Linked DNA regions of Homo sapiens: regions 1, 3 and 4 are each linked to region 2. Evidence: fine-mapped expression QTL. A gene starts in region 2. Each other region holds a variant in brackets. All regions are shown on one strand. Distances are from middle to middle. Region 1 has its middle 31 kb from the start of LINC02072. Region 2 holds the start of UTP18 (UTP18 small subunit processome component). Region 3 overlaps LINC02071 (long intergenic non-protein coding RNA 2071). Region 4 has its middle 31 kb from the start of LINC02071.

Region 1 (8,035 bases), 110 kb before region 2:
GGAGGCTGCAAGCCCATCCATCCTTGTGCTGTGATTGCCATCTTGTGGCAGAGAGACAACAAGGCAATGGGGGAGGACCCAACCAATGATGAGCCTCCCAAGAGCACCACGAGATGATGGTCAAAATCAGAGTTCCTTTGTCTGCCCCCACCACCCACCACCAAAAAAAAAAAGCGTCCTGCTCTCTGTTTACCATTCCCCAAATCATATGCTTTGGGGATTCTCTGCAACTGGTTTTTTTATTTAGCTATTATAAAAATGATACATGCCCATCATTTACAAATTTAGGCCGGGTGCAGTGGCTCATGCCTGTAATCCCAGCACTTTGGGAGGCCAAGGTGGGCGGATCACAAGGTCAGGAGATCGAGACCATCCTGGCCAAAATGGTGAAACCCCGTCTCTACTAAAATACAAAAAATTAGCCAGGCGTTGTGGCGCGCACATGTAGTCCCAGCTACTCAGGAGGCTGAGGCAGGAGAATCGCTTGAACCCAGGAGGCGGAGGTTGCAGTGAGCTGAGATTGAGCCACTGCACTCCAGCCTGGGCGACAGAGCCAGACTCTGTCTCAAAAAAAAAAAAAAAAAAAATTGAAACATGACTGAAGAATTTAAAGACTAAAGTCAAAAGTCACCCCAAATGCAGCCACTCTGAACTACCAGCATTAGTATACGGGGCAAGTCCCTGCAGCCATCTCTCCATGCCACTGACAAGCAGAGAAGCAGATGGCCCAGTAGCGGTTCAGAGCTTGGGCTCTGGTGCCCGGCTGCCGGGGTTCCTGGTTGGCTTTGCCACTTCCTAATTTGTGACCTTAGGCAAATTCCTTAACCTCCATGTATCTTATGTTCTCACCTTAAAAACAGGGACAACAGTGGCATCTCTTACAGAATGGCTATAGGGACTTCCTCTGCAAACCTCAGAGCACAGTGCCTGGCACTTGGTAAACATTCACATGTCAGCCACTGTTAATGATGGATGGATGAACGGGCAGATAGCGAGATATACTTTTAGGAGAAGGATGTTTAATGTCGCATGTTACCTTCTTTTTTCAGTTTTATTTTTCCCCTTCTTTTCACAGATGGTGATGCATGTTACTTTTTACTTTAAAGAAAAAAGTATGAACTGTGAAAAGAACAGGATAGGGAATCCATAATTGGAGAGGCTAGGAACTGAGTAGCTGAATCCTCCTGGGTCCACAGGTGATTAGCCACATGTCTCCTGACTGGCTCTTCCTCCCCATCTGGTTTCCCCCTGCCACCAGCATGCCACCAGAGATGCTGCCCCTAGCTGTAGCAGTTCCCACTTGAGCTGTTCTCAATCAGGAGGAAAAAGGTGTGCTAATAACCAACCAGGGAGAAACGGAATCAGGAGAGAAAACCCATCCTGCTGCTGGCACAAATCTCTGAGAGCCAGCACCGATGCATTGCTCTGTCCAGGGGCTTCAAGGCCACTGAGGAGGATGAAAGAAATCAGTGACCATTTCTGCAGTTGTGAAAGGCAGCGGGCATACCACACCTCCTCACTGCCTTCATGTACTGCCCACTAACTGTGTATGATGCAGGCCTTCTCCCAGCCCCTAGCAGAACACGGACCTGCCCTGGCTCTGACTCCCCAGAACCCACAGTCAGGTGACTGGACCTCTTTCCACTCCAAACTGTGGGTGAGATGGCCAAGTGATGCAGAGCTGGCCATCACCAGGGCCAGCCTGCTTTCCAGCCCTCTGGCTTCCCCATCCAGGATTTGAAGAGTAAACCCAGAGTTTCCCAAAGCAGTCAAAGGAGCCCTGAGAAGAGTCACAGGGACGGAAGGAAAGTTCCTGCCACATAAGAATGGGGCATAAAAGGCTATGTCCAATTCCCCTTAGGAATCCCATACACCTGTAGGGAAAAAAAGAGGCTGGCAGGCTGGGAATGTGCTCACAGAAACAGCCAGCCTTTGGGAGAATGCCAAGTAGCAAGGGCATGGACACTCCCTCTTGCCCAGGACAGAGGCACACACCCTGGGGCTGCTATTCTCCTTTTGTCCTCCCCTCCCCTCCTGCAGTGAATGGAGGCCTGGACAGGTAAGAACGTCCCACAGAAAGGCATGTCCATGACGAGGCACTGGGAAAGAGAGAACAGCATTCCCAGAAATGTGTCCCAGGATTCTGCCAGACCACATATTTGTCACATTTGAGTAGTCCTGAGAAGGCCTCTAGATCTCTTCGTGTACTAGCTGGCTTTGTAAGTAGACATCAGATTTGGATTCTGGAAACTTGGGCTCAAGTCCCAATCCAGGCACTAGCCATGTGACCTTATGTAAGGCATTCCCCATCTCTGGGCCTCGGTTTGCTCAGTAGCATGACAGGGTAAATTAAGAGATGCCTCCTTGGCCTCCTCCAACTCTGACTCTACAGTCCTCAGTAGTGGCCGTAGCATGGAGAAAGGAGAAGAGGACTGATAGGGGAGGCTCCTGCTCAGCTTAGGTCCATCCCCAGATGCAGCAGATGAATGACTGACTGGTTATGTTTCCACTTTTCTGTCTACCCAAAACATGCCTGCCCTTGTTTAAGGAAGGCAACTCCTGATCTCCACCTTGATTTCACATCAGAAAGACATCAGAGAGACTCAGAGTGCAGCTGGGCAATCCTCACATTTTACACGCAAAGAAGATAAAGCTCCGAGAGTTAGAAGCATTGCTAGCAGTGAAACCCAGGACTCTGAGTCTACCTCTGCAGAGTGATTGCAAGCTTTCTGAAGCATGCTATCCTTCTGATTGAGACTGCCCAGAAACACAGGGGCTGAAATGACATTAGGGGCACTAGAGTGGTAAGCACAGAGTATGAACATGGAAATTATTAATTCTAGGAATCCAGCTGCATTACAGCCCAATTATTTACATAATCTCAACAATGGAAGTTTCATACATTTGGAGTTCATTAAATAATTGTTCTATCTTATAAGAAAGTTGGAATAATGCAGTGGCTTACTCTGTGGATCTAAAGAAAACAATGGACTGTGATCTTGACCCTGACTTCCCAAAAACATAAACGCCTGTTCTTGAAACAATTTCAAAGGATTCCCAAACTCAATGAAACTCACAAATAATCTACTAGGTGTTAAGGGACCCCAGATTAAGAGTCCCTGGAAAAGAAAGACCTCAGGCTTTTAAAAATTGACACATGAGATCTAATTAAACTAAAGAGCTTCTGCACAGCAAAAGAAACTATCATCAGAGTGAACAGGCAACCTGCAGAATGGGAGAAAATTTTTGCAATCTATCCATCTGACAAAGGGCTAATATCCAGAATCTACAAAGAACTTAAACAAATTTACAAGTAAAAAACAACCCCGTCGAAAAGTGGGCGAAGGATATGAACAGACACTTCTCAAAAGAAGACATTTATGCGGCCAACAAACATATGAAAAAAAGCTCATCATCACTGGTCATTAGAGAAATGCAAATCAAAACCACAACAAGATACTATCTCACGCCAGTTAGAATGGCAATCATTAAAAAGTCAGTAAAGAACAGATGCTGGAGAGGACATAGAGTAATAGGAATGCTTTTACACTGTTGGTGGGAGTGTAAATTAGTTCAACCATTGTGGAAGACAGTGTGGCAATTCCTCAAGGATCTAGAACCAGAAATACCATTTGACCCAGCAATCCCATTACTGGGTATATACCCAAAAGATCATAAATCATTCTACTTTAAAGACTCATGCACACATATGTTTATTGCAGCACTATTCACAATAGCAAAGACTTGGAACCAACCCAAATGTCCATCAATGATAGACTGGATAAAGAAAATGTGGCACATATACACCATGGAATACTATGCAGCCATAAAAAAGGATGAGTTCATTTCCTTTGCAGGGACATGGATGAAGCTGGAAACCATCATTCTGAGCAAACTAACACAAGAACAGAAAACCAAACACTGCATGTTCTCACTCATAAGTGGGAGTTGAACAATAAGAACACATGGACACAGGGAGGGGAACATCACACACTGGGGCTTGTCAGGGGGTTGGGGGCGAGGGGAGGGATAGCATTAGGAGAAATACCTAATGTAGATGACGGGTTGATGGGTGCAGCAAAACACCATGGCACATGTATACCTATGCAACAAACCTGCACATTCTGCACATGTATCCCAGAATTTAAAGTATAATTTGAAAAAAAAAAA[AAAAAAAAAAG/G]GAAAGAAAGAAAGACCTCAGGCTTCTTAGTTAAAATTCTAAGGTTCAAATCTCAGCTCCACTACTTACTAGTTATATAATCTTAACCCATTTTCCAAGCCTCTGAGCCCCCATTTCCTCAACTGTGAAGCAGAGGTGATACCTCTTCCAGTTGTGGGATTAAAGGAGATGTGAAATCCTATAATATAGGGATGCTGCCAGGCTTGCAGTCAGTAATAGGTGATAGAAACTGAGTGCTTTCTAAGCACCAGGCTCTGCCCTATGCACTGTATCTGCACTATCTCAACACCACTAGGAGACAGGTACTATTGTGATCCCTGTTTTATAGATAAGGAAGCTGAGACAGAGAGGTTAAGTATTTGCCCAAGATGGCACACCTTCTAAATGGCACAGCCAGTCAGTGGATTCCAGAGTCCATGCTTCTAACCACTACATCATATTATCTCATTAAACAATTTAATTTACTCCAGAAGTTTGGCTTTAAAAAAATTAAACTCAGAGAAGGAAGAAGAATGGAAAGAAAAAGATAGATCTTGGTGAGGAATGAGTTGACCCAAAGGCCCCTTTACCAACCTGTCTATTTTGTCCCTTTCTAGGGACAGATGTAGAAAAGCAGTGTCCTGAGTTCTGGGCAGCAGATGGCCCTGAAGCTCCATCTCACCCAGGTTGTGGCTGGCCGGTGCCTTGAAGACACATTTCACGTGCAGGCACTGCCCGAAAATGCTTTGCAAAAATCATCCCATTCAATTCATCCCACACACTCACAGTGCTATGAGACAGATGCTACCATTAGCTCCATTTTACAGGTAAGAAAACTAAAACACAGGTGTAAAATGTCCCCCACAACCACTGCTGCTCTAAACTACTACCACCACAGGGTCTCATAAACAGTTTTGGTAAAATGCTGAGAGGGGATAGTTCACTTGACCCCCTTTGCGGGCAGGAACTGGAGTGTCTCGTTTCACTCAGCCCACCACTGGCCACTCCTCGCAGGAGGGAGAGTGTGAGTGAGCGAATGCAGGAACCTGAGCGAACGAACACTGGAACTGGAACTGGCTGGTCACTCCTCTCTGGTGGGAGCAGGCTCTGTGTGGGCCCCACAGCAGCGTCCAAGCGTGTTACAACCAGCGCTCTTTCAGCTCTGCCATCAGGATCAGCCAAGTGCCAACCAGCTCAGGGGTCAGGGTGGCAGCCTCTGCCCTCTCAGCACCCAGGTTCTTGTCCAGCGTCCAAGAAGAATCAGGTCACATGGACTGTTTGAAAGGTGATGAGTGCGGAAGACTTTATTGAGTAGTGGGTGGCTCTCAGTGGAAAGGAAGGCTGGAAAGGGGATGGGAAGGTGATCTTTCCCTGAAGTTCAGCCATCTCCGGCCGGGCCCCTCTCTGAAGCCACACTGTCTGAAGTCAGCCACACCTATCCATAGTCTCTGATGCTCAGTTGCTTCTCTGCTCACTCCTCAGCCACTTGTATCCTCGATGCTCAGCCGCCTGTGTTGTTCTGCCAGCTAAAGTTTTTATGGGCACAGGATATGGGTGAGGCAGGCCAAAAAGGCAACAGTTGGACGGAAAAATGGGGTCAGCTGTTTTCACTTAAGGGGCAGTTCCAGGCTTAAGAATGGGGTTTAGCTGGGAGCCCAGCCCTCTGTATCAGTACGATGGTTAAAATCAGAAACTTTGGGGCCAAATCCAGTAAAACATGTGGGGGTGGGGAGAGGGGCTGTTGGGGAGGAGGGTTAAATAAGCACAGTCCACATACTGCACATTGGAGCTGTTTCTACCCAATGGGAACTGCATGGGTGTAAGGAACATGGCTGTGCTTTGGTCAAGGATAGGCCGAGGTAAGATGTTTACATCCCTGTGTGTCTCAGCGAGTTCAGAGCACAGGTGTAAAACTCCACTTGTTATCATAGCCATGTAGCCATCACTAGATGGGAAGGCCATCGCTTGGCTCTACACCACTATTGTCTATAAAAGGTATAATTGCCCTGTTGACACTGCACAGGTGCACTGGCACCCAGAGAAAGAGAGAAAGAGCCAAAGCTGTCCATCTGCAAGATGGACAGAGGGGAGCCGCGGCACAGCTCATGCTGGTGCCCAGAGAGAGAAAGGGTTAATTTGCTGACCCTGAAGGCAAGAGAGAGCAGGCCATGCAGCTGTGTGCGGGGGCCGCCGGACCAAGCAGCTGAGACAGGGTGGACAGTGTGAGAAAGCTGTTGGTAAGAGCTGCTGCTGAATAAAATAATTCACCTGCCTACGACCCCCCAAGTGTTCTTTCTGCTCATCCACCCGCTCCCTCTGGACCTCACCATGACCTTTGGCGTAGTCATGAACTTGACAATGGGTGCGGCAGGACTCATCAGAGAAGCCATCCCAAGGCTGGAGTAGATAAGTAGAGGAAGTGAGCTGGCAGACTTGAGTCAGGAAGTTGTTGGGCGAGGCAGGCGGCGCTTTAAAGGAGGAAATTGGAGGCCTGAACCCCAGTTAGAAAACAACAACCCACTCTGATTTTCAGAGCCCCTGGGAAAACTCAGCACTCAGGGCTCTGGCATAAACGACAGTGGGGCACAGGAACAGCCCTTGCCCCATCCCCTCCAGCCAAGTGAACCAGACCTCATTCTTTGGCTCTGAATTCAGCCTCCAGATAAGCAGCAACAAGTCAGTGGGGCAGGACGGAGACTTTCCAAAGGAAGAAGTGCAGGACTACAAAAAAGCTGACACCCTGTCTGCATATGCATCCCGACATCCCTCACCTTGCTTAAAAATAGTTGTTCCTAATCTTGGCCATACAGTGGAATTACTCGAGGAGATTTTTAAAAATACCAATCGTCTCTAGGGATGGGACTTGGAGATTCAAGTGTCAAAAAGCCACCAGGTGGTCTTCATGTGCAGGTAGAATTGAGGATCCATCCTCGATTTGTCACCCATCATGTCCTATCGAGGACACCTGCACTCTAAGTGTGGTCCACACAGCCTCCGCCTCAACATCGCCTGGGAACTTGTTAGAAATGCAGAATCACAGCTCCCTCCTCAGTCCCCTAGACTCGGAATCTGCATTTTAACAAGATCCCCAGATGATTCATGTGCACAGTAAAGTTTGAGAGATGCCAGTTTAGACTCTTACTACCCACCCACCACCACTTTCCATCTGAACAATCAGCAGCTGTTCCACTCCCCACCTCCCTTAGCCTGAGACAGGAATCAAGATGTAATGCAAGGGTTCCCAAGTTTTAGCATGCCTCAGAAGCATCTGGGCAGCTCATTTAAAATACAGATACCCAGGCTCAGGTGTGTTTAACACACACTCCCCACCCCAGGTGCTTCTGCCCCAGGTGCTCCAGAAGCTGTGAATGGAAAAGCTGTTATCGCGAAAGCACAGAGGTATTGGAATCAGGTGAATTACACCCTAAATTCTGACTCTGCCACTTGCTATCTATGTGAAATTCAGGAGTCACAAACATCTCTGAGTCTGTTTTATCACCTACAAAAATCAGGATGACGACATCTCACTTACAGTGATGTTATGGCTTGTATTGTGTCCCCCAAAAAGAAATGATAGACTCCTAAACCCCAGTACCAGAAAATGTTACCTTATTGGGAAATAAGATCATTGCAGATGTAATTAGTTAAAATAAGGTCATCCTGGAATAGGGTGGGCCCTTGATCCAAAATAACTGGTCTCATTAAAAAACACACATATACACAAGGGGAGAATGTTTTGGGACAACAGAGGCAGGGACTGAAATGCCATAGGTGCAAGCCAAGGAACACCAAGAATTGCCACCACCACCAGAAGCAAAGAAGAAGCAAGGAAGCACTCTCCCTGCTCCAGGTTTCAGAGGGAGTGTGACCCTGCCG
Region 2 (7,958 bases):
GAAAATGGAGAAATCAGAGAATGGCACCGACTGGACAGGTGAGGCAAGATGGAACAGTCAAGGAGAAAAAGTCAACACTCAACACGCAGGAAGGAAAACACCAAGTAAGACAAGAACAAAAGATGAGTCTGCAGATGAAAAAAGGAGGAGAAATGTCAGAACTACAGAAATTACAGGACCGGAGGCAAACTAGAGTCAAAGATATCTCCATTTTCCCAATCTGTTTTTGACCCCCTACCTCCTTAAGAAACTTTATACCAGCAGAGAGCGCAATGCCTCATGCCTGTAATCCCAACACTTTGGGAGGTCAAGGTGGGAGGACTGCTTGGGCCCAGGAGTTCGAGTCCAGCCTGGGCAACATAGGGAGATCTCGTCTCTACAGAAAATTTTTAAATTTAGCTGGGTGTGTGGTGTGCACCTGTGGCCCCAGCTAACTACTTGGGAGGCAGAGGCAGGAGGATCACTTGAGCCTAGGAGGATGAAGCTGACTTCTGAGTTTAAAGTGTTCGGAGAATTGTGCAGGTGTAATTTATCTGTGACCAACAAGAAGAGCAACCAGTTACTATTAGCAAAAGGGAGATGGAAGACTAATAGGTGCCGCTACACTCCAGTCTGGGTGACAAAGTTAGACCGTATCTCTAAATAAGTAAAAAATAAATATACCATTAAATCTAAATTCTAAAGTTATAAATTTATACCATAAAGTTTATACTATCAAATCTAAACCTAGGCCGGGTGCGGTGGCTCACACTTGTAGTCTCAGCACTTTGGGAGGCCGAGGCGGGCGGATCACGAGGTCAGGAGTTTGAGACCAGCCTGGCGAAGATGGTGAAACCCCGTTTCTACTAAAGATACAAAAAAAAATTAGCCAGGCGTGGTGGCGCACGCCTGTAATGCCAGCTACTCCAGAGGCTGAGGCAGGAGAATCGCTTGAACCCAGGAAGTGGAGGTTGCAGTGAGCCGAGATGGCGCCACTGCACTCCAGCCTGGGCGACAGGGCGAGTCTAAAAAAAAAAAAAAATCTAAACCTAGACCACAGAATATCCCTTGAAGTGAGTTTGAGCTTCCCAAAACCAATGATAGAAATGTCCAAGTGGTTTCTACTTGCTCTACTACTAGTCTAATAGCCTTCAAACCCAACAGCTCCCACCTCCGTACACTGTTCCTTTTCCAGACGACAAAACCGTCGCACAGTTCAGCATGTTTCCAGTAATAGTTCTGTACTTCCCAAAAAGATTGCTGCCACTTCTCCTACAAGCACCCGAAGGCGGCTCTGGTAAGCAGCTGACATTAACTAGGTCAGCATTTGTGTAATAAACATGGCCTGGGTAATTCTCGGTGAGCTTTCCTCTGCCCCCTTTATCTAAAATTTCACAGGCCTCTACACACGCCCATCTCCCTTTCCCGAATGTCCTTTTTTCTCTTCAGCACTTGTCACCAACAAACCTGAAGTTTACTCGTTTATCTCCTCTATCTTGTCTCTGCCACTAGCACACAAGCGCCAAAAGGCAGGGATTTTTGTCAGTTTTGTCCATTGCTGTGTCTCCTCCAGTGCCTAGAACAATGTCCGGGACTCTCTCAAGAAAAGCCTGGTATAGAATTTAAAGGGATAGCAAAATGTGTGCAAAAAGTATGATCAATCACGCAGGGTTTGCCATTGCCAGAAAGGGTATCTGGCAACTAACAGGTTCACCAATATTTGCTAAATGAACGGAATACACGATCATTCTCAAAACATGGTGGGTCTCATAGTCACATGGGGACATAGTTACAACGGAGATGCCCAGGCCCGTGCCCACGAATTGATTCCATCAACGAAATCGAATTCCTGAATCACAAGGAACTGAGGCAGGTGATCAAAAGACCACCCTCAGTTTGGGAAGAGGCTAGCGGAGTCGAGCAGCAGCGAAAGATGCTCACGACCACAGTTCGCAAAGCAGATACCCGAGCAGCGGCGCCTCCAGGGGCGGAGAAAGACGCGGTCCCCGCCCTCCAGGCACTTTCAGTCTGGAGCAGGGAGGCGAGGGACCCGCAGCTGCGACCCTCCGCGCCCGCGTTCTCGGGCTCCCTCCCACCTGAGCGCTCCCCGCCGCCGCAGGTCGCCCAGGCTCCGCCCCCCGGAGCTTCACCGCCCACCGCGCGCCCCGCCCGAGTGCGCCCAGCCCGCGCGCCGCGGCCTCCCTCACCCTCGGGCCTCGCAGACGCCGCAGCAACGCGTCCTCGTCGTTCTCGACGTCGCCGAAGACCAGCTCCTCCAAGCACCGCTCCACGGCCGGTTTGTCCTCCTCCAGCCTCAGGCGGTTCCGCTGCCGGAGCCGTCTCTCTTCCTCCGCCGCCGCGACTGCAATCGCAGCGGCCGCCGCGCTCGGCCGGGCCGGCGGTTTCCGCTGGGATGAAGGGGCAGGCTTTTGGGGAGGCCCGCCTGGCCCCGCTCCGGCTTTCCAGTCCGGCCTCATTCCGGGCTTCCGCTTCGGCTTCGCTCCGGTTCTCCGGTCCAGTTTCATTCGTCTCCTCCGCTCCGGCGGCATCGTTAGGTTTGAGGAGAAACGCAGGCGCTCACGTGGAACCTCGCTGCGCATGCGCCCAGGCCCCTCGCGGGCCGCCGCCGCCGAAGCCCCGGGGGCCGGAAGGAGCCTGCGCAGCCTCTTGCCACGTGACCAGCACTCCCTCCCTCTACGTAACTCCCGCTCCCCTACCCAGCCCCGCCCCGTGTGGGAGTTCCTCCGGGAGGGCCAATCTTCCGGGTGTAGGGGGAAGCGGCGTGACTGGAGTGGAAAATTTTTCCAACACAATTTCGCAGCTGCAACATATTGAAAGGAGCGCAAGAAACCCCGACTATACACTGGGACGGCTGAATGGAACTTCTGCTTTTCCTCTTGGCTGTAACCACTTGACTTGACACAAGCCCCAATACGCTTTCCACCCTTCGTCTTGGTACGGTCCTTGGAGTACGGAGCCTGCAGAGGGTCCCACGGTGGAAGCGAGAGAGGAGGGTATGTAGGGAAGTGGGCCAATCGGGGCGCGGGTCACGGCGCAGGCGCGCTGGGGAGGGAGGGCTATGCTAATGTTGTTGATATCCTGGGGCCACCCGAGTTAAAGGGGGGAAATCCGGGGGCTGCTGCACCCGCCACCGGTCTGGGCCCAGCCGGGGGCCCCCTGTAGTCGCCGCAGTCCCGGGGAGAGGCACCTGCCCCCAGCCCGGGGAGGGGGCGCCGCGGGCTCGGGGAGCACGGACAACCCCTACCCATGAGGCCCTGATGGAAAACACAAAGGATCTGGTGAGAGCCGAGCGCGGCAGCCGCTTTGTGTGCCAGGTGGGGGGGACGCCTGCAGCTCTCCGACCCCAGGAACCCCGCAGCTCCCTGACCCCGCTCCCTGGCCTGCTTCTCCATCCCACGCCCTCTCAACCTCCGGAGCCCCCCTCCCCCTTCCAGCCGTTAAACGATTCAGGGGTTCCCCTCCCCCCACCCCGTCAGCCTTGGACTCGTTGGGGTTCTCTCCATCTCCTCCACCCTTTGGAAGAAAAATTCGAGAAGAAAGTTTTTCTCTGCGTCCTGCCCCCGCCCCCTGCTCTGGCTAGGGGGGAAAGGCTGGATCCGAGACTTTTCCTTTTTTAGCCACCCAGGGTGGGAGAGTGGAGTAGTCCTCTCTTCTTGGCGGGGAGGGGGAGCACAGTTTCGTTGCTTTGCAGGGGAAGGTGTCTATCTGCCTTGGGGGCAGTGCCGCGAGGCGGTTTGCACGTGGAGGTGGAAATATTGAAAGGGGGCGGGGTGGGCACGTGCGGGAGAGGTGGGAGTGGTGTTTGGGAAGCAGCCTCCAAGGCTGCATATTTAAAAGGGTTTCAAGTCGGTGGACTTCTGTGACCATTGCGTTCTCCTTTGTGAAATAAGAATCCTAACATTTCAGAGTCGGAAGAGACATTAGAGGTCATCCAAAGCAGCCGTCCCCTCTGCAGCCTCTCTGACAAGTGGTAGGTAGTCTGAACCCTGCTTACACCCCTAAAAGCACTGAGAGCTCACTACTGCCCAGGAAAGCCCATATTTCAGTAGTTCTAATTGTTGTCTGCCTACCCTTATTAGACCCTTCAGTCTCATTCATGTCCTGGTTAAGTTGCTCCTTTTTTTACTTCTCAAATTTTCTCTCACATCCTCCTCACCCACCCACTGCTCATTGGCCTATATTTTGTGTGCCAAGAAAGAACAGCAGGGAAGTGGAGGAAGGGGGGTTGAGAGATAGTGAGGGCTAGCCGAAAACTTTGCTGGGTCAGTGTCAAGTGTGCTGGCTTACATGCCTGAAGATGTTTTTCTACAGGAAGCTAAAGAATTACAATATGGGAATTTCGTGCCTGTTTTCTCTTAGGAGTGCATCTTTTTGAAGTTAGAAATTTCAGCGTCATCTCCGTGGTTCTTGTATCACAAAACACATTTGTTTATTACCTAAATCACTTCTAAGGATGTCTAAAACTGAAGTGGTTAGAAGCATCACCTGGTAGAGGGATGATTAGATGATTACCGCCCACACCCGTATTTGACCTGTGTTCCTCGGAAGCTAGTCTTTCCTCCAAGGGCCTCTCTTCCAAATGCTTTTACTCCTTCTTTTTTTTTTTTAAGTAACTATCTTTTATGAGATTTGAAATTTACGAACCATTTTAATACTTGTTTAGAGTTTACAATATTTTTAATTCTCCTTATATTAGCATGCACCAGTACTTATCACTGGGTGGTTGAGATAGTTGAAACTATTGTCACTGGGTGTTTTTCTAACATTCTCCTTCATTTGGTGAGCTATGCTGCCTCTAAAAGTAGTTTTATTGGCCTAAGAATCTTGGATATACCTATTACTCTCTAATGTGGTGAAGTGGGTGTCAAGACATAACAGGTATAATGTAGAAATAATGCATGTGATTTAAAAGCCAGCAAATAAATTTCACCTTAAGCCCCAGTCTCCTATTTAAAAGGTTAGACTCAATTTTTCTCTCCTCCTCTTATAACTTAGAGACTGTTGCTTTGCTCTTGTGGACTTAGACTGTTATTTTATTTTTCATTTGTTTACCTCAACACCAGAGTGTTTAGAAAGAAAATAGCTGTACTTTTTTTTTTTTTTTGCACCACCTCCTTCTCTGAATAACAAGTAGCTTCTATCTATCTAAAACCCCATACTGATTGCTTGTGAGTACCTTGCAAATTATGGCAACATCTGTCTTGAATAAGTATTTATTCATAGTGCCTTACGTTGTTGCGTCATGCTTTTTAACCATCCAGTTTCTAACTTTATGTAATGTTTGACATAAAATATTTCCTCTAAATCTACTCATTAGAATTCAGCTTGTGAAAAAGAATCAGTAGAGGTGTAATAATAGTGTTTTTAACATTTTAATTAATAAGGAGTTCCAAGTTTTTTTCCTGCTTACTTTAAACATGAACTGTCATGACTTAAGTTGACTGACTTTGGAGACATCTGCATTCTAAACATACTAGACAGGAACAACTGGTTTTATTTTTAAGACGCTGCCATATTCTTTAAAGCTGGTTATATGTTGACCTTATTATCTAAACCTTTCTAGATGTTCTAGTGCTGCTTTTGGTCCCTCAATAATGTTGAAAATTAAAACAACATTTTAAATTGTTTTCAAATGTAACATAGTGATCAAAGGAAAATATAAGCTATAGTTTAAAAGTGAAAACAACATATTAGGATAAATACTAAACCACTGAATTACTAAAAGCCAAGAGTGCTCAGTAGTCTGAGTAACCACATTCTAAAATTAGACAAGTGACATTCTTTGGGTTGCTCTTTGTTTCTCAGCTTTTCATCTTTAAAATGTTTGCTAAATAAGATATAACCTTTCACACTTATGTATCATTAGTCTGAGGGTTTCAAAATTCAAGAAAGAATAAAAACATCAGGACAATAAAAGAGAAAGGACTTACAATAGTTAAAACAAGCTAAGATATTTCTCCTAACACCACAGTATTCTTAACTGTGCAAGATGACTTTTGATTTCAGGCAAAAATTGCACATAGATTTAATCATTATTTTTTAATAAACCTTGGCTTAAGGATTTTTTTACCTGCAAATTTAGGATTTCTCTTCTTGCTTTGCTGGAACCCACAATAAAAGGTGAAAAGGAAATAATTCCCATTTGAACAAACCCTGAATATGAGATAGGATGAAGTGATACAATAAGAGGGGTGCTGGCAGTGAGGTTGATGTCACAATTCTGCCATTGAGTAGCTCCATGGCCCTTGTTGGACAAGATCCTGTGCCTCCATTTTCTCATGGCAGTTGAAGGGTTAGTCTAGTATCAGCATAATCCAATAGAAGTTTCTGCAATGATGGAAATTTCCTATATCTTTGCTGTCCAGTTACGGTAGCCACTAGCCACATGTGGTTGTTGAGCACTTGAAATGTAACTAGTGGAACTAAAAATTGAAGAACTCAATTTTTAATTTTGCTGTTTTAGGCAATGTAAATTTAAGTAGCCAAATGTCTGGCATACTGGACATACACACATAGAACACTGTTTTCTAAGCATAACTAATCATTATAATCACTTCTTGGAGGCTCTTGTTAAAATACTAAACTTCTCTCCTATAACTTATTTAGTAGGTCTGCAGTGGGTCCTGGGAATGTGTTTTTAATGTATACCCCAGAAAGTTTATCAGGTTGGTTAGGGAAACACTCCATTAGGAGATTTCTGAGGTCCCTTCGAGTTCTCACTTTAGCACTGATAATTTAGAATTTAGTCTAGTAGAAGTGAGCTCTGGACAAAGTCAGCAAGCTACCTCTCTGAACTGCGATCTTAGGTGAGTTGTGTAACCTCTTTGAAAGCTTCACTTTCCTCATCTGAAATACAGGGTGAACATCAGCCCTGCCTCCTGTAGTTTCTGTAAACCTCCACTCAGATGTTATGCCCGCTGTTTAAAAAAAGTAAGCTGCTATAAAAGATGAGACAAGTCATAAGATAAAATGTTAAGATGTGTTCCCAGGCTTTCCTTCTTTTTCCTTTTTCACTATGTTTAATTCCTACTACTAGTCTTTTAAAACTGGTTGTATATAATACTCATTAGTTTGTTCAACGTTGTGGCCCAATTATTTGGCCACCGTTTGCAGTCTTAATTGTAGGACAGGAATGTTAAGTCTAATACTTCTTTGTATTTCTGGTGCTAAGCATAGTGATTTGTATATATCGTTCAATAAATATTGGTTAATATTAACCAGGTGTGTTGGCTAACGCCTGTAATCCCAATACTTTGAGAGCCCAGGACAGGCAGATTGCTTGAACCCAGGAGTTCAAGATCAGCCTGGGCAACATGGCGAAACCCTGTCTCTACAAAAAAAAATTACAAAAATTAGGTGTGGTGGCACACCCCTGTAGTCCCAGCTACTCGGGGGCAGAGGTGGGAGGATTGCTTGAGTCTGGTGGGAGACCCAGGTTGAAGTGAGCCATGATTGTGCCACTGGACTCCAGCCTGGGCGACAGAGTGAGACTCCGTCTCAAAAAAAAAAAAAGGAAAAAAAAAAGGTTATCATCATCTATTACTTTAAGACTTCTAAGCTTTAAAATTTGCTAGAGATTATTTTATACACCAGAGAAGTAGCCCCCTTGTGTATCTGTATGTGTTTAACCCATCTTTGTTTAATTATTAACACCCTGTAGTTACTATTGTTCAGTGATTTTATATCTTCTGAGCAACCAGTTCCAAATATATTTTTTAAAGGTAAACACCAAGAGAATGTTATCATTTCAGATCAAGTGTTTTTAGGTTATATCAGATCAATATGATACTGAATAAGCTGTTGAATTTACTTTCTCTTTTCTTTTTTTTTTTGAGATGGAGTCTTGCTCTGTTGCCCAGGCTGGAGTGCAGTGGCATGAGCTCGGCTCACTGCAGTCTCCGCCTCCCGGGTTCAAGTGATTCTTCTGCCTCAGCCTCCCGAGTGGCTGGGACTACAGG
Region 3 (8,035 bases), 62 kb before region 2:
GGTATGTAAAGGGGGAAAACTCCAGCATTAATCCAGCCTTTCCCATAGGAACTGCACCACTGGGTAAACAAATAATAAACAAGGGTAAGTTTCCCTTTATAAAAGTATCCCAACTAATAAATGGAAAAGAAATGATAGAATATCACCATTCTGCAGCCCTCAATAAAGTACGTATGAATGGTTACAAACATAAAAAGAGACCATTAGATATTATGCACTTCCTATAATCATGCCTAACACCACCTACAATCTTGCCAAAGAAACTGAACCTGAGTTCTAATCCAGTCTCTGAACTACCTGCCAATTTGTAGAAAACACAGAGGACTGAGGAACATGCTTAACTGCACCATGAGTATGCAGTCAGCAAAACCCAGACTATGGGAAACTCTACAAGCCAAAAGGCCTGAATTCTTCTACAGGCAAATTGGAAAGAAAAAAAAGAGGGATGGAGGAAGAATTTACTGAATAATCGCGGCTTTAAAAAATTATCACTTTTTTTTAATGAGCAAGACTAGAGTATCTTGAGATGCGCATTTGGATCTTTAAAAAAACTTTAAAAAGTAAATGATTACTACAAAGGTCAAGAAAGTGACTACTTATAGAGAGAGAGGGGTAGGCAATTGGGATGAGGGAAAGGGGCACAGGTTCTGGGGTGGGTGGCAAAGTTCTACTTCTTAACTCACGTGGCATTCACAATAATTCATTAAGCCGTGCATTTGTTAGGTGTGGGTTTTTGTATCTGTGTTTTATTTTTCAATAAAAAGTTGAAGTATTCTTAAGTAAATTGGGAACTTTCACTCACAGAGTTGATGGTAGTATAAACTGATAAAGGTTTTTATAAGGCAATTTAGCCATATCCTTTTCTATTTCAAATTCATACTGGTCCCATGTGCCTCATGGGTTTGGAGCAAATGAAGTCATTAATGTTACTGTGGATGGATAAATGTGAAGGACAAAGATAAACACATAAGATAAACTCAGGCTGACCAAGCCCCTAGTAAGTGTCAGGGACAGTGCTTGAACCCTTTACACAGGTCTGTGAGATAAGAATCATCATTTCAGATGTGGCACCTGAGGCCCAGAGAGACGTTCAGCAACTTACCCAGCATCACCCAGTCCACAAGTGAAACACCCCTTCATTTCAGAAGTGAATACTCCAGAGGTAAGAAAATAAGCAAGCAATAGCCCTACCCTGCCAACCTATCGGACAACAAAGACGGATGAAATCAATGCTTTTATTGAACAAAATGGAATGTTCTTGGTAATGTGTAAAAGCAAGAGGCCCAGAGGCCTTGAATAAGAAGTTATCCTTTGTATAAAATGCAAGTAAAAACTCATTAGTATCTTTCCAGTAATATCATATATATTACAATACTTGATATAAAATTAAATCATTCTGCAATTTTCAAATGCACAAATATATGTTAGGTTTTCTTTCAAGTTGAAGGGACTCAAGGTAATTCCACCCAACAGACAACTAAGTTAACTCCCAGCTGAAGGCTCAATGTACTCACTGCATGAGCAGGAACCCTCCAGCCTTCCAGAGACTGAGTAGCCCTCCTGAATCCTCCTGAGAGGCCTGCATCCTGGCCTCACAGAAACAGGTAGCGTTTTGACTGGTGGGTTTCTGGAAACTATCACCAGGCAGAATTCTGACAAAAGGAGGAGAAGCTGGAAGGAAAGAGAATTCACAAACATGAAAGTTGGTCAGGCAGGTCCCCAAGGGAAATACCATTCATTTCAGAGGCCACTCAGAGGGAGAAGGAGCACTGAACTCAGAGTCAGACCACCTGGGGTCCTGACTGCCATTCACTGGCTCTGTGACCTCAGATCAAGTCATTTAACATTTCTGAAACTCAGCCTTCCCAGGGGTATAGAAGGGTTAATAACACCTGCCCTGCCTATCTCCCAAGGCTGCTGTAGGTATCAGATGAGAAAATAATAACAGCTGGCATTTATTGAATGCTTGCTATGTGCCAGGCAGTGGGCCATGTGCTTTATATGTCGTAGCACCTTTTAATCCTCCATCAGCCCTCTGAAGTAGCTTTGATTGTTGTCCCTCAGTGAAGAAACTGAGACTTGGAGAGTTTAAATAATTTGCCCAAGTTAAGGCTGACGTTAAACCCAAGTAGACTGACTCCAGGTTCTGTGTTCTTAACTCTGATGCCATACTGCCTCCTAGAGCACATCTCTAGAAAGACCTTGTGTACTTAACACTCTACAACAGAAGGTGGCAGTAGGTATGAACTGTCACCTATAACTCAATTCCTCCAAAAGTGAAGCAGAGGGATGCTTCAAGGGCACTTGTAAGCAAAGATTGAGGAATGTAGGGTGATTCCATGATAAAAGTCCTCCAAATGCTCACTCAGACGAGACAGACTCTGCTAAGTAGCAGGAGGGGGCATTATATCCTCCCCCAACTCCCACCCCATCCCTGAGAGACAGCCACGCATGCTCTCTAGAGAGAATTTCCAGTTTCTAGGATTGCATGAGAGAGTCCACTTTTTGCAGAGGAGACAAAAAAAGACTTTTGAGCACAGAGTCAAGGCCTTTGTCACTTTCTAGTGATAAAAGACAGGGACTCCACAAAGAGACTGGAAGAGCATGGGGTACTGTCATAGAAAGAGCATTAAAATACAAATCAGGACACCTATGCTCAAGTATGAAGACCTGGATCCAAAGTCCAGCTCTAACATTAATTAACAAGTCGTTTAACCTTGGACAAAGCCTTCTCACTGTCAGGATGACTTCTAAGGTACTCAATAAACATTTGATTCCTACAACCCTATCTTCTCTGCCTTAACTGGCCCATGGGCACTGGGATAAGGGAAGATGAGTAAGCAGTTATGAAGTGCCTGTTACATACAATGTACGGTCAGAGTCTTTTAAAAATCATAGTAGGGGTAATAATACATATCAAGAACTTACCCTGTGTGGGACCCAGTGCTAAACGCCTTATCAATGTAGCAATTCTATGATAAGAAAAGTTAAAAGACAAAATGATTACCCCATGGAAATAAGACAAAATGATTACCGTGTCCTTTAAAAGTCATATTAGAGCATTGTGTAAGAAGGAAGAGTCACAGTAGCATTTTTTTCTTTTTTTTTTTTGAAACAGGGTCTCACTCTGTCACCCAGGCTGAAGTGCAGTGACAGGACCACGGCTCATTGCATCTTTGACCTCCTGGGCTCAGCCTCCAGATTAACTGGTACTACAGGAGTGGGCCACCCACACCTGGCTAATTTTCTGAGAGACAGGTTTCACCATGTTGCCCAGGTTGGTCTTGAACTCCTGGGCTCAAGAGATCTGCCCACCTTGGCCTCCCAAACTGCTGGGATTACAGGTGTGAGCCACCACACCCAGCCCACAGGAGCATTCTATTGCCAAACTGAAATGGGGAGGTGGGCAGAACCATCAAAGAGCAGACACCCACTGGAGACCCAGGAGCTTCAGGAAGAACCCAGGGCTGGAAAAAGAGAAGCAGTCAATAAATGCACAGGGAGCTTTCACAGTAGGACAAGGAATTCCAGAGGACAAGGGAGAGCAGGCTTGGGGAGAAATGGGGTGAGGGGAAGGCGCTGGCATGAAATACTCCTGGCCAACTTCTACTCACTCTTCTGAACTCAGCTTAAACATGGCTTCCTCAGGAAGACTTCCAGGACCCTTCAGACCAGGTCCTGTTTCCTTGCCCTATGCTCCCAAAGCACTATGCCTTTCTCTTTTGGTCATGTTTGTCCAACTTGTAATTAACTAATCCATGACTTTGCCTCTGTGAGTGCTGGGAATCCAGCGTGAACCACATAGTGCCTAACATCCACAGGAAGTCCATTGATTCTCATTGGGTGGATGGGAGGAGGGATGGGTGGGTGGATGGATGATCTGAAAATCCAGATGAGGGCAACAGAAGGAAGATGTTGCATTTGAGGAAGCAAGAGTTTGGGGGAGAACAGGAGGTATATAAAAATAACAGCATATAACCTTACTGGAACTTTTGGGAATTTGATTTTATTTTACAGAAAGCATATAGGCAAGCCTATATATGCTTTCTGAAGAAGAGGTAGGATCTACAATGAGGGAATTTTATCACTGCTTAGGTGTCAATGAGA[A/C]AATGCATTTGCCGGCTGCTGGCTAATTCAGTTTCATGGTTTATTTTCAACTCATCATTTTTAAAACTGACTTGAATTTTGTCTACAGCTACCTATAGTTAATCTGTCCTTGTGCCTCAACATTCCCTCTCAAGCTCTTCTTTACAATTTAAACCCCCAAATAGTCCCAATTCCAAATATTCTGACTTGCTGTCCAAAAACCATCAAAATACCTCGGAATTTTCATCATGTCTACATTCATACCATGCCTCCAAGACAGCGTCTCACATCTGAAAATGGCACAAAAATCCCTAGTTAGCCCATGTATCTTGATTTGGGACTCAGAAAATGTGCTTTTAGCCCTCACCTCATATTTACTCTGTAAACCAAACATAAAATTCTAAACCCCTCAACTGACTGAATGGACTGCTGCCTCTTGGCCAAGGGCATTTCCAAAATAAACCTGAAAAACTAGTTCAGGCCATGATAGGAAGGGAAGTCGAACATCCCTCATTATACCCTCCTCCCTTTGGAATTCAGGCACAACTGATCAGCATTATCATTAAACAGAGATATTAAGACTGACAAAACAGACTCTTTGTAGCAGTAAGATACCAAATTCCAACCTGACCCTAATATAGCATCACATGACAGATAGCAGGCCCTGAAAGAATTCAAAGTATTTTACCCAAAAATATATTTCTTTGACATATTTTGAAATGGCCCTGCAAAGCTCTCTCTTGTAGGAAAAATCCATATTCTGTAGAGAATCCCCTTCCCTTTCCTGGTCTTTTCTGATCCAGGAGATAGTTAATTGAGAGTCTGGCAGCTTTTTAGGTCTGATAAGAGACATTTGCCATCTATTCTCTCTGAAGCCAGCTACCTGGAGGCTTCATCTGCAATAATAAGAACTTTGGTTTCCACAACCTCTTATCTTAACCCAAATCTTCCTTTTTATTGATTCCAGGTCTTTAGATAATAACTTAACTCTTTCGACCAATTGCCAATCAGAAAATATTTGTTTTTTTTTTTTTTGCAGGGGGGATGGTACATGTAGGATATAATAATGCTTCTTCAAAGGTGTTAGCCTATAAATTGTTAAGTACAATGAGTTCTGAGATCCTCTCCAAAGAACCAATGTATCAGTATGTTCAGCTCCCCTGTTCTTTGTTCCTCATTTTAAAGCTTAACTTCCTCATTCTTTACATCTCCTTGTCCCTAGTTTCAGTAAACAACCCCCTCCTAGCCTCTATTACCTGCTCTGACCTTAGTCACCCTTGGTCACCTGCTCCGACCTTAGTCATCCTTGGTCACCTGCTCTGTTCTTAGTCATCTTGTACCTGTTCTGTAACTGTCCTTCCTGCCAAACTACTCTCCCTGCCACTCCAGCTCATACCCCTGCTCTCTTTAAAATAGCCCACTGGAATGAGCTTAGACTGTGTGATCCAACCCTAGCCAAAGGGGAACAACACAGCAGTAGGGGCTACCTGTGTCAGGGATAAGAACCCCTTCCACTCCCTTGTGCTCTCGCCATTGCTCCATCTGCAAAACGCACCCTTCTATAGAAGTAAAATTGCCTTGCTGAGAAAATTCATGTTCGAGTGCTATTTCTTTTGCGGCACCATAAATTTATTTCTAACAGTGCAGGAGGAAAGACAAGAGCTCACTCTGTTACCCAGGCTGGAGTGCAGTGGCTCACTGAAGCCTCGAATTCCTGGGATCGAGCTATCCTCCCACCTCCCACATAGCTGAGACTACAGACATGCACCACTGCACATGGCTAATTTTTAAAATTTTTTGTAGAGACAAGGTCTCACTATGTTGCCTAGGCTGGTCTCGAACTCCTGGGCTCAAGCAATCCTCCCACTTCAGCCTCCCAAAGTGCTGGGATTACAGGCATAAGCCACCACGCCCAAGCTAGAAAATATTTGAATCCACCTACAAGCTAGAAACCCTCCAGCCCTTCAAGTTGTCCAGGCATTCCAGACCGAACCAATGTATACCTTACATGTATACACACTGATGTCTGCCTGTATCTGAGACAGGTCTCAGTTAATTTAGAAAGTTTATTCTGCCGGCCAGGTGCGGTGGCTCACGCCTGTAATCCCAGCACTTTGGGAGGCTGAGGCGGGCGGATCACCTGAGGTCAGGAGTTCGAGACCAGCCTCAACATGGAGAAACCCTGTCTCTACTAAAGATACAAAATTAGCCAGGCGTAGTGGTGCATGTCTGTAATCTCAGCTACTCGGGAGGCTGAGGTAGGAGAATTGCTTGAACCCAGGAGGCGGAGGTTGCGGTAAGCCGACATCATGCCATTGCACTCCAGCCTGGGCAACAAGAGTGAAACTCTGTCTCAAAAAAAAAAAAAAAAAAGAAAAGAAAGTTTATTTTGCCAGAGTTGAGGATGCACACCCATGACACAGCCTCAGGAGGTCCTGACGACATGTGCCCTAATTGATTGGGGCATAGCTTGGTTTTACACATTGTAGAGAGACATGAGACATCAATCAGTACATGTAAGAGGTACACATTGGTTCTGTCCAGAAAGGCAGGATAACTTGAAGCAGGGAGGGGGCTTCCAGGTCACAGGTCGGTGAGAGACAAATGGTTGCATTCTTTTGAGTTTCTGATTAGCCTTTCCAAAGGAGGCAATCAGATGTGCATTTATCTCAGTGAGCAGAGGGATGACTTTGAATAGAATGGGAGGCAGGTTTGCCCTAAGTGGTTCCCAGTTTGACTTTTCCCTTTAGCTTAGTGATTTGGGGGCCCCAAGATTTTTTTTCCTTTCACATTTCCCCCCTTTTCTTTTGAAAAGCTTTGGGAGAAAGCATATTAGAAGGAAATGAATCTCTGGTCTCAGGTTTCATCTGATCTCTCATGGCTAGGACAGTTTATTCCTAGATGGTAGGTCCCAAGTTATCAGGAAAGTTCACCTTTAGCAGGCTGGGAAGTCTCATGTCCTAGGAAGAGAAAATAGGGGGAGGAATCGTGAAAAACAACAAAAAACAAAAGAACAATCCTGGAAAATTGATATAGGCCACATTATTCTGAAGTCCATACAAGCAGGTAAGAAAGTGGCTTACATATGTATATGGTTGCTGTTATTTTCTTCTGATGTTTAAGTTGTCTAGCTTCAGTTTGCAGAGTTTTAAGAAAGCACAGCTTAGTTTTCAGTTATTTCACGTTAGGAAAATGGTGCGGGGGGGGGAAGGAAAAGAAAAAAGAAAAAAATGGAAAACATTATTTTGGAGACTTGTAGCCAGGAAAAATTAGAATTGAGTCCAAACTGTAGAAAATAATAAAAACTGAAAAATATTAGGCAAGACTAGAATCTAACAACAGATGTATTATAGTTTTTGAAATATAATTTTTCTCTCTCCTGTTACCAATTTTTACAAAAGACAAATAATCATAGGACCAATTTGCTTTATTATACTTGGCTAGACTATTTCTATAAAGTGAAGCAAGAATAATTATTTTTCACATAGGCTTTTAAAATTGGCTTTGATGGAACTTTGTTCCACAGAAGGAATCTCAGATAAGACTTTTTAAAGCCAAGTCCAGTCATGGATTTGTACCATCGAATACCTATGAGTTGAGTAAATTCGTCTCTTCTTGAGGTCCCAAGATAACTTGGGGCTCCTGGGCCTGTCAGAAAGTGATATTCTTTACTTACCACAGATCAGGAACCCTATTCAGGAACTGTGTAGGCATGGTATGCAGCCAGTTTTCTTCTAAGGGGTTTTTATTGGCTCTATAAGTCAAGTTTGATTCCTTAAAGAAAAGCACGCCATTCCAGTCAAGCCTTTGGTAAAACAACCAGTTTCTCCAATTCTGTCCTGTTACAAATGAAAACAGATTCTTATTGCACTTATGCAAATAACTATATGGCCATAAGTTAGGAATACTCTCAAAAAGTTTCCAAATTCTGGAGAAATCAGGTAGCAAG
Region 4 (8,035 bases), 45 kb before region 2:
CTGTGAATCCATCTGGTCCTGGACTTTTTTTGGTTGGTAAGCTATTAATTATTGCCTCAATTTCAGAGCCTGTTATTGGTCTATTCAGAGATTCAACTTCTTCCTGGTTTACTCTTGGGAGGATGTATGTGTCCAGGAATTCATCCATTTCTTCTAGATTTTCTAGTTTATTTGTGTAGAGGTGTTTATAGTATTCTCTGATGGTAATTTGTATTTCTGTGGGACTGGTGATGACATCCCCTTTATCATTTTTTATTGTGTCTATTTGATTATTTGATTCCTGGTGATATCCCCTTTATCATTTTTTATTGTGTCTATTTGATTCTTCTCTCTTTTCTTCTTTATTAGTCTTGCTAGCAGTCTATCAATTTTGCTGATCTTTTCTAAAAAACAGCTCCTGGATTCATTGATTTTTTTGAAGGGTTTTTTGTGTGTCTATCTCCTTCAATTCTTCTCTGATCTTAGTTATTTCTTGCCTTCTGCTAGCTTTTGAATTTGTTTGCTCTTGCAGATTCTCTAGTTCTTTTAATCGTGATGTTAGGGTGTCGATTTTAGATCTTTCCTGCTTTCTCTTGTGGGCATTTAGTGCTATAAATTTCCCTCTACACACTGATTTAAATGTGTCCCAGAGATTCTGGTATGTTGTGTCTTTGCTCTCATTGGTTTCAAACAACATCTTTATTTCTACCTTCATTTCATTATTACCCAGTAGTCATTCAGGAGCAGGTTGTTCAGTTTCCATGTGGTTGTGCGGTTTTGAGTGAGTTTCTTAATCCTGAATTCTAGTTTGATTGCACTGTGGTCTGAGAGACAGTTTGTCATAATTTCTGTTCTTTTACATTTGCTGAGGAGTGCTTTACATCCAACTACGTGGTCCATTTTGGAATAAGTGCGATGTGGTGCTGAGAAGAGTGTATATTCTGTTGATTTAGAGGGGAGAGTTCTGTAGATGTCTATTAGGTCTGCTTGGTGCAGAGCTGAGTTCAAGTCCTGGATATCCTTGTTAACCTTCTGTCTCATTGATCTGTTTAATATTGACAGTGGGGTGTTAAAGTCTCCCATTATTATTGTGTGGGAGTCTAAGTCTCTTTGTAGGTCTCTAAGGACTTGCTTTATGAATCTGGGTGCTCCTGTATTGGGTGCATATATATTTAGGAAAGTTAGCTCTTCTTGTTGAATTGATCCCTTTACCATTATGAAATGCCCTTCTTTGTCTTTTTTGATCTTTGTGGGTTTAAAGCCTGTTTTATCAGAGACTAGTATTGCAACCCCTGCCTTTTTTTCCTTTCCATTTGCTCGGTAGATCTTCCTCCATCCCTTTATTTTGAGCCTATATGTGTCTCTGCACGTGAGATGGATCTCCTAAATACAGCACACTGATGGGTCTTGTCTCTTTATCCAATTTGCCAGTCTGTGTCTTTTAATTGGGGCATTTAGCCCATTTACATTTAAGGTTAATATTGTTATGTGTGAATTTGATCCTGTCATTATGATGTTAGCTAGTTATTTTGCCCATTAATTGATGCAGTTTCTTCATACCATTGATGGTCTTTACAATTTGGCATGTTTTTGCAGTGGCTGGTACCGGTTGTTCCTTTCCATGTTTAGTGCTTCCTTCAGGAGCTCTTGTAAGGCAGGCCTGGTAGTGACAAAAATCTCTCAGCATTTGCTTGTCTGTAGAGGATTTTATTTATCTTTCATTTATGAAGCTTAGTTTGGCTGGATATGAAATTCTGTGTTGAAAATTCTTTCCTTTAAGAATGTTGAATATTGGCCCCCACTCTCTTCTGGCTTGTAGAGTTTCTGCCAAGAGATCCGCTGTTAGTCTGATGGGCTTCCCTTTGTGGGTAACCCGACCTTTCTCTCTGGCTGCCTTTAACATTTTTCTCTTCATTTCAACCTTGGTGAATCTGACAATTATATGTCTTCGGGTTGCTCTTCTCGAGGAGTATCTTTTTGGTGTTCTCTGTATTTCCTGAATTTGAATGTTGGCCTGCCTTGCTAGGTTGGGGAAGTTCTCCTGGACAATATCCTAAAGAGTGCTTTCCAACTTGGCTCCATTCCCCCCGTCACTTTCAAGTACACCAATCAAACGTAGATTTGGTCTTTTCACATAGTCCCATATTTCTTGGAGGCTTTGTTCATTTCTTTTTACTCTTTTTTCTCTAATCTTGTCTTCTTGCTTTATTTCATTAATTTGATCTTCAATCACTGACATCCTTTCTTCCACTTGATCGAATCGGCTATTGAAGCTTGTGCATGCATCACGAAGCTCTCATGCCATGGTTTTCAGCTCCATCAGGTCATTTAAGGTATTCTCCACACTGTTTATTCTAGTTAGCCATTCCTCTAACCTTTTTTCAAGGTTTTTAGCTTCCTTGCAATGGTTTAGAACATGCTCCTTTAGCTCGGAGAAGTTTGTTATTACCGACCTTCTGAAGCCTACTTCTGTCAACTCATCGAAGTCATTTTCCATCCAGCTTTGTTCTGTTGCTGGTGAGGAGATGCGATCATTTGGAGGAGAACAGGCACTCTGGTTTTTTGAGTTTTCAGCTTTTCTGCTCTGGTTTCTCCCCATCTTTGTGGTTTTATCTACCTTTGGTCTTTGATGTTGGTGACCTACAAATGGGGTTTGGGTGTGGATGTCCTTTTTGTCGATATTTACGCTATTCCTTTCTGTTTGTTAGTTTTCCTTCTAACAGTCAGGTCCCTCAGCTGCAGGTCTGCTGGAGTTTGCTGGAGGTCCACTTCAGACCCTGTTTGCCTGGGTATCACCAGCACAGGCTGTACAACAGTAAATATTGCAGAACAGCAAATATTGCTGCCTGATCCTTCATCTGAAAGATTTGTCCCAGAGGAGCACCCGCCTGTATGAGGTGTCTGTCAGCCCCTACTGGGAGGTGTCTCCCAGTTAGGCTACACAGGGATCAGACATCCACTTGAGGAGGCAGTCTGTCCATTCTCAGAGCTCAAACACCGTGCTGGGAGAACCACTGTTCTCTTCCGAGGTGTCAGACAGGGACGTTTAAGATTGCAGAAGTTTCTGCTGCCCTTTATTCAGCTATGCCCTGCCCACAGAGGTGGAGTCTGTAGAGGCAGTAGGCCTTGCTGAGCTGCAGTGGGCTCCACCCAGTTTGAGTTTCCTGGCCGCTTTGTTTACCTAATCAAACCTCAGCAATGGCGGATACCCCTCTCCCCACCAGCCTGCAGCCTCGCAGATCTATCTCAGACTGCTGCGCTAGCCTTAAGCAAGGCTCCGTGGGTATGAGTCCCACTGAGCCAGGCATGGGAGAGAATCTCCTTGTCTGCCAGTTGCTAAAACTTTGGGAAAAGTGCAGTATTTGGGTGGAAGTGTCCCGTTTTTTCCAGGTACAGTCTGTCACAGCTTCCCTTGGCTAGGAAAGGGAAATCCCCAGACCCCTTGCGCTTCCTGGGTGAGGCAATGCCCTGCCCTGCTTCCGCTCACCCTCCATGGGCTGCACCCACTGTTCAACCAGTACCAGTGAGATGAACTAGGTATCTCAGTTGGAAATGCAGAAATCACCCATCTTCTGTGTCGATCACTCTGGGAGCTGCAGACCAGAGCTGTTCCTATTCAGCCATCTTGGAATGAAAATTAGAGCTTTTATATATTTTTAGTAGTGAAACATTGTGTACACAATACATAATTACATAGACATATTAGGCATACCAGTAGAAGTACATCTTATAGATTCATAAGACCTACTTTTTTTTTTTCCTGTCTTAGACTTGCAAACTCTTCATAACCTGTTTCATTACCCTGGCAGTTGTCAGCTAAATTGCCTTAAATCTGCATATCGAAGGAAACAACTCTTAGGTGAAAAATCAGGTAACAAAATTTACATCTCAAGGTACAGAGAGAAAAAGTCTGGTGTTGCTAGAGGGAGATTAAAGATGGATGCCAAATCAAACATAAAATTATAGAAATCTATCATAGGATTGTATAAGGAAACCAATTTTATTTAGATACGGACTATCTGCCTTTTAAGTGGATCTCTGATCTCTGGGCAGAGCCCACACTGAATCCTGGATCTCCAAAAAGGGAGAATTACTATGAGGCTAGACCTCATGCTTTTCCAGTGCACTCAAAAAAAATTTTTTTAACAAAGACATTTCTAAGTGTCTAAACTACATTCTTCCTTAACAACCCAAGAGTTGCCTCTGTTGCAATAACTATTTTAGTT[A/T]AAAAAATCAGGTAACACAATACAAAAGAAAGCAGTTTGAAAGCTGAGACGAACTTGTCTGTTTACACTCTTTGGATTCCATAAGGAAAAACAGACATTTCCCAAAAGGGAGTCTGGCACCTTCTCTGTTTTTTTATTTATTTATTTATTTTTTTTTTTTTGAGACAGAGTCTCACTCTGTCGCCCAGGCTGGAGTGCAGTGGCGCTATCTCGGCTCACTGCAAGCTCTGCCTCCCAGGTTCACGCCATTCTCCTGCCTCAGCCTCCCGAGTAGCTGGGACTACAGGCGCCTGCCACCACACCCGGCTAATTTTTTGTGTTTTTTTTTAGTAGAGATGGGGTTTCACCATGTTGGCCAGGATGGTCTCGATCTCCTGACCTCGTGATCCACCCTCCTCGGCCTCCCAAAGTGCTGGGATTATACCTTCTCTTTTTCCTTTTAGGAACTTCAGACTATTATAAACTATTTTAGGTCTTCATGCAGCAGAGGGTGCAAGAGAAAGGAAGGACAGCAGAAGCAAATAAAGAAAACAGAATTCAGTCAACAGAGAAGAAAAAAGGTTTTGTTCAAAAAAAAGACAAGGTCCTAAGAGGAAAAAAAAATGAAGGCCTTTAAAATACAAACACTCACACACACACACACACACACACACACACACACACGCATCTTCGATGTTAGCTTTTAATTGAGCTGACTTTTAACCATTGAGCTCCTTTTAAAAAAATATTTTTAGATTTCATTACCATATTTCAAATAGGACAAATTGCTGCTATTTCAGAAGTACCAAGTATTAAACCAGAAAGGGCTTCATTTAGGGACAAAACCCAGGCTGTCGTGGTGATAAAAAGAAGGCAGAACATTGGCTATGGAACTCCACTGTAGGGTAACAGCCATTGCTCTTACAGTTTGGCCTGGCTAGCCAAAAGGTGGCCTTCTTATGTAAATAAAGCCCCTTAAGTAATCAAAATCAAATATCTTTCCTTTTTTTTTTTCTTTTTCCTGGCCATTTTTCTCCCCTCACCATACCACCTTTGTGTGTGTGGGAAGGGGGGTGTTGGGGGAGTATGGGGGAATTGAAAAACAGCCAGCAAGAGGGGAAAAAAAAGGAAAGATTGTTTATTTGGACTACTTAAGGGCTTTATTTACATAACAAGTCCACCTTTTTGTGTATGTTGGGAATTTAGCCAATTCAGAGGGCTTGTTCCCCATAATTTGAAACTTTCTTTGGACTTGATCAAGTCAGATACAGTTGGTCAAACCCAATGGGAAAAAGGTTGAAAGAACAAAAACAGAGACAAACAACAACAAAACCGTTAAGCAAAACAAACAATTGCACAACTTAAATGATTACTGAGCACTCTAATGGTAAGGAGAAATGAAGACCAGTTGGTTGTTAACCTTAACTTTAGCCAAGACAAACCCCAATTCAGTTACTTACCTAGGGACAGGTCTCAGGCTGGAGACTGCTCTCTATTATCCTAGAAGCAGGAAAAAAAACCCTCAAATTTGCCTTCCCTGTTGGGAGCAAGCTCAAAGCCCTAAAGGAGTAACCTATTTGTCATGGAAGCAGGAAAACTAGCCTTCCTTGTGCTGGAGGAAGCAAATAAAACTCACAAGAAAAAAAGGAGTTGTAAAGCAAAATAAACTTCAGATCTTGACCAAATTTTGAGAGATCAGGGATTCTCTGGAGGGCGTGCTTCCAGGCCTCAGCAAATTGCCCTATTGGTTTGAGCCATCAAGACAGCTCAAGATGGTACCAAGCACCAATAGGAGATTTGTCAAAGGCCGGGAGGCACCTCCACTCAGAGTTCCTTTGTGGTTACCAAAATGTGAACCCTGAATATCTGAGACAGGTCTCAGTTAATTTAGAAAGTTTATTTTGCTAAAGTTGAGGACTTGCACCTGTGACACAGCCTCAGGGAGTCCCGACAACATGTGTGCCCAAGATGGTCAGGGCACAGCTTGGTTTTATACATTTTAGGGAGACATGAGACATCAATCAATATATGTTAAGAGGTACATTGGTTCTGTCCAGAAAGGCAGGACAACTTGAAGCAGGGAGGGGGCTTCCAGGTCACAGGTAGGTGAGAGAAAAACAGTAGCATTCTTTTGAGTTTCTGATTAACCTCTCCAAAGGAGGCAATCAGATGTGCATTTATCTCAGTGAGCACAGGGATGACTTTGAATAGAATGGGAGGCAGGTTTGTTCTAACCAGTTCCTGGCTTGACTTTTCCCTTTAGCTTAGTGATTTGGGGGCCCCAAAATGTATTTTCCTTACATGCCTCTGTCCCCCTAAAATATCTAAAATCAAGCTATAACCCAACCACCTTGGGCACATGTTCTCAGGATCTCTTGAGAGTCTGCATCGGGCCTTGGTCACTCATATTTGGCTCAGAATAATTCCCTCAAATATTTTATGGAATTTGACTCTGTCGCCAACTTTTTGTTCTGTCTGTAATCAAGTCAGATTTTTTAAGTTTATAGAATTTTGATACAGGCGTGCAATGTGTAAGAATTGCATCATGGGGCTGGGCACGGTGGCTCACGCCTGTAATCCCAGCACTTTGGGAGGCCGAGGTGGGTGGATCACCTGAGGTCAGGAGTTCCAGACCAGCCTGACCCATATGGTAAAACCCCATCTCTACTAAAAATACATGTGGTGGGGGGCGCCTGTAATCCCAGCTACTCGGGAGGCTGAAGCAGGAGGATCACTTGAACCTGGGAGGCGGAGGTTGCAGTGAGCCAAGATTGTGCCACTGCACTCCAGCCTGGGCGACAGAGCAAGACTCTGTCAAAAAAAATAAAAATAAAACATGGCAAGTGGGCTATCAATCCCCTCAAGTTTTTATCCTTTGTTACAAACAATCCAATTACACTGTTATTTTAGAATGTACAATTAAGTTATTACTGACTATAGTCACTTTGTCACTTTGTTGTGCCATTAAATACTAGGTCTTACTCATTACAGAGAAAAATTGGAAACATAATGCTTTGAACCAGTCTTTGTAGCAGGGATTGGGCTAGAGAAAAAACTCAAGTTTAAAGTCAGTCTAAACTACCTAGCTTATGTGACAGTTAATGGAGAAGCTTTAACATTATAGGGAACATAAAAAGTGTTTGGGAACAGTGGAGGACAGGGTGTGGAAATGTGTCAAGTTTGGCATGGCAGCCAGGCACCCAGGCCAGTGGTCCTTTAATAAGAAATGTACATTGAGGTGAGAACGGTGGCTCACGTCTATAATCCCATCACTTTGGGAAGTTGAGGCAGGCAACTGCTTGAGCCCAGGAGTTCCAAGACCAGCCTGGGCAGTATGGAGAAACCCTATCTCTACTAAAAATATAAAAATTAGATGGGCGTGGTGGGGTGCCTCTGTAGTACCAGCTACTCGGGAGGCTGAGGTGGGAGGATCACTTGAACCTGGGAGATTGAGGCTGCAGTGAGCCATGATCATGCCACTGTACTCCAGCCTGGGTGACAGAGCAAGACCCTGTCTCAAAAGAAAAAAAAGAAATGTACATTGAATGTACCAATGTAAACATATCTGTTTATGGCCGGGTGCAGTGGCTCACGCCTGTAATCCCAGCACTTTGGGAGGCTGAGGCAGGTGGATCACCTGAGGTCAGGAGTTCGAGACCAGCCTGGCCAACATGGCAAAACCCCGTCTCTACTAAAAATACAAAAATTTAGCCGGGCGTGGTGGTGGATGCCTGTAATCCCAGCTACTCTGGAGGCTGGGGCAGGAGAATCTCTTGAATCAGGAGGCAGAGGTTGCAGTGAGCCGAGATCACAACATTGCACTCCAGCCTGGGTAACAAGAGCAAAACTCC

What was found. PIP is the estimated chance that this variant, and not a neighbour inherited with it, causes the effect.
Region 1: its variant is the best candidate, but not a certain one, in a credible set for the expression of UTP18 in whole blood (INTERVAL, PIP 0.77).
Region 3: its variant is the best candidate, but not a certain one, in a credible set for the expression of UTP18 in whole blood (INTERVAL, PIP 0.87).
Region 4: its variant is the best candidate, but not a certain one, in a credible set for the expression of UTP18 in whole blood (INTERVAL, PIP 0.89).

Annotation. Positions count from the first base shown.
Region 1 is chr17:51,363,822-51,371,856 of GRCh38, reverse strand. No RefSeq gene overlaps it. Among named protein-coding and RNA genes, the nearest start is that of LINC02072, 31 kb to the right of the region's middle. RefSeq lists an enhancer at 5,258-5,758. The variant AAAAAAAAAAG/G (reference allele first, on the strand shown) is at 4,171.
Region 2 is chr17:51,255,155-51,263,112 of GRCh38, reverse strand. UTP18 (UTP18 small subunit processome component) reads right to left here and starts at 2,567. Exons shown (of 14, transcript NM_016001.3): 1 at 2,187-2,567. The coding sequence starts at 2,528. It overlaps MBTD1 (mbt domain containing 1), which reads left to right and starts at 3,064. Exons shown (of 17, transcript NM_017643.3): 1 at 3,064-3,278; 2 at 3,907-3,970. RefSeq lists an enhancer at 1,497-1,546 and silencers at 2,017-2,206, 2,557-2,666, 3,007-3,326.
Region 3 is chr17:51,316,760-51,324,794 of GRCh38, reverse strand. It overlaps LINC02071 (long intergenic non-protein coding RNA 2071), which reads left to right. Exons shown (of 6, transcript NR_110751.1): 4 at 1,063-1,162; 5 at 3,119-3,209. Among named protein-coding and RNA genes, the nearest start is that of LINC02071, 14 kb to the left of the region's middle. RefSeq lists an enhancer at 5,191-5,280. The variant A/C (reference allele first, on the strand shown) is at 4,108.
Region 4 is chr17:51,300,524-51,308,558 of GRCh38, reverse strand. No RefSeq gene overlaps it. Among named protein-coding and RNA genes, the nearest start is that of LINC02071, 31 kb to the left of the region's middle. The variant A/T (reference allele first, on the strand shown) is at 4,206.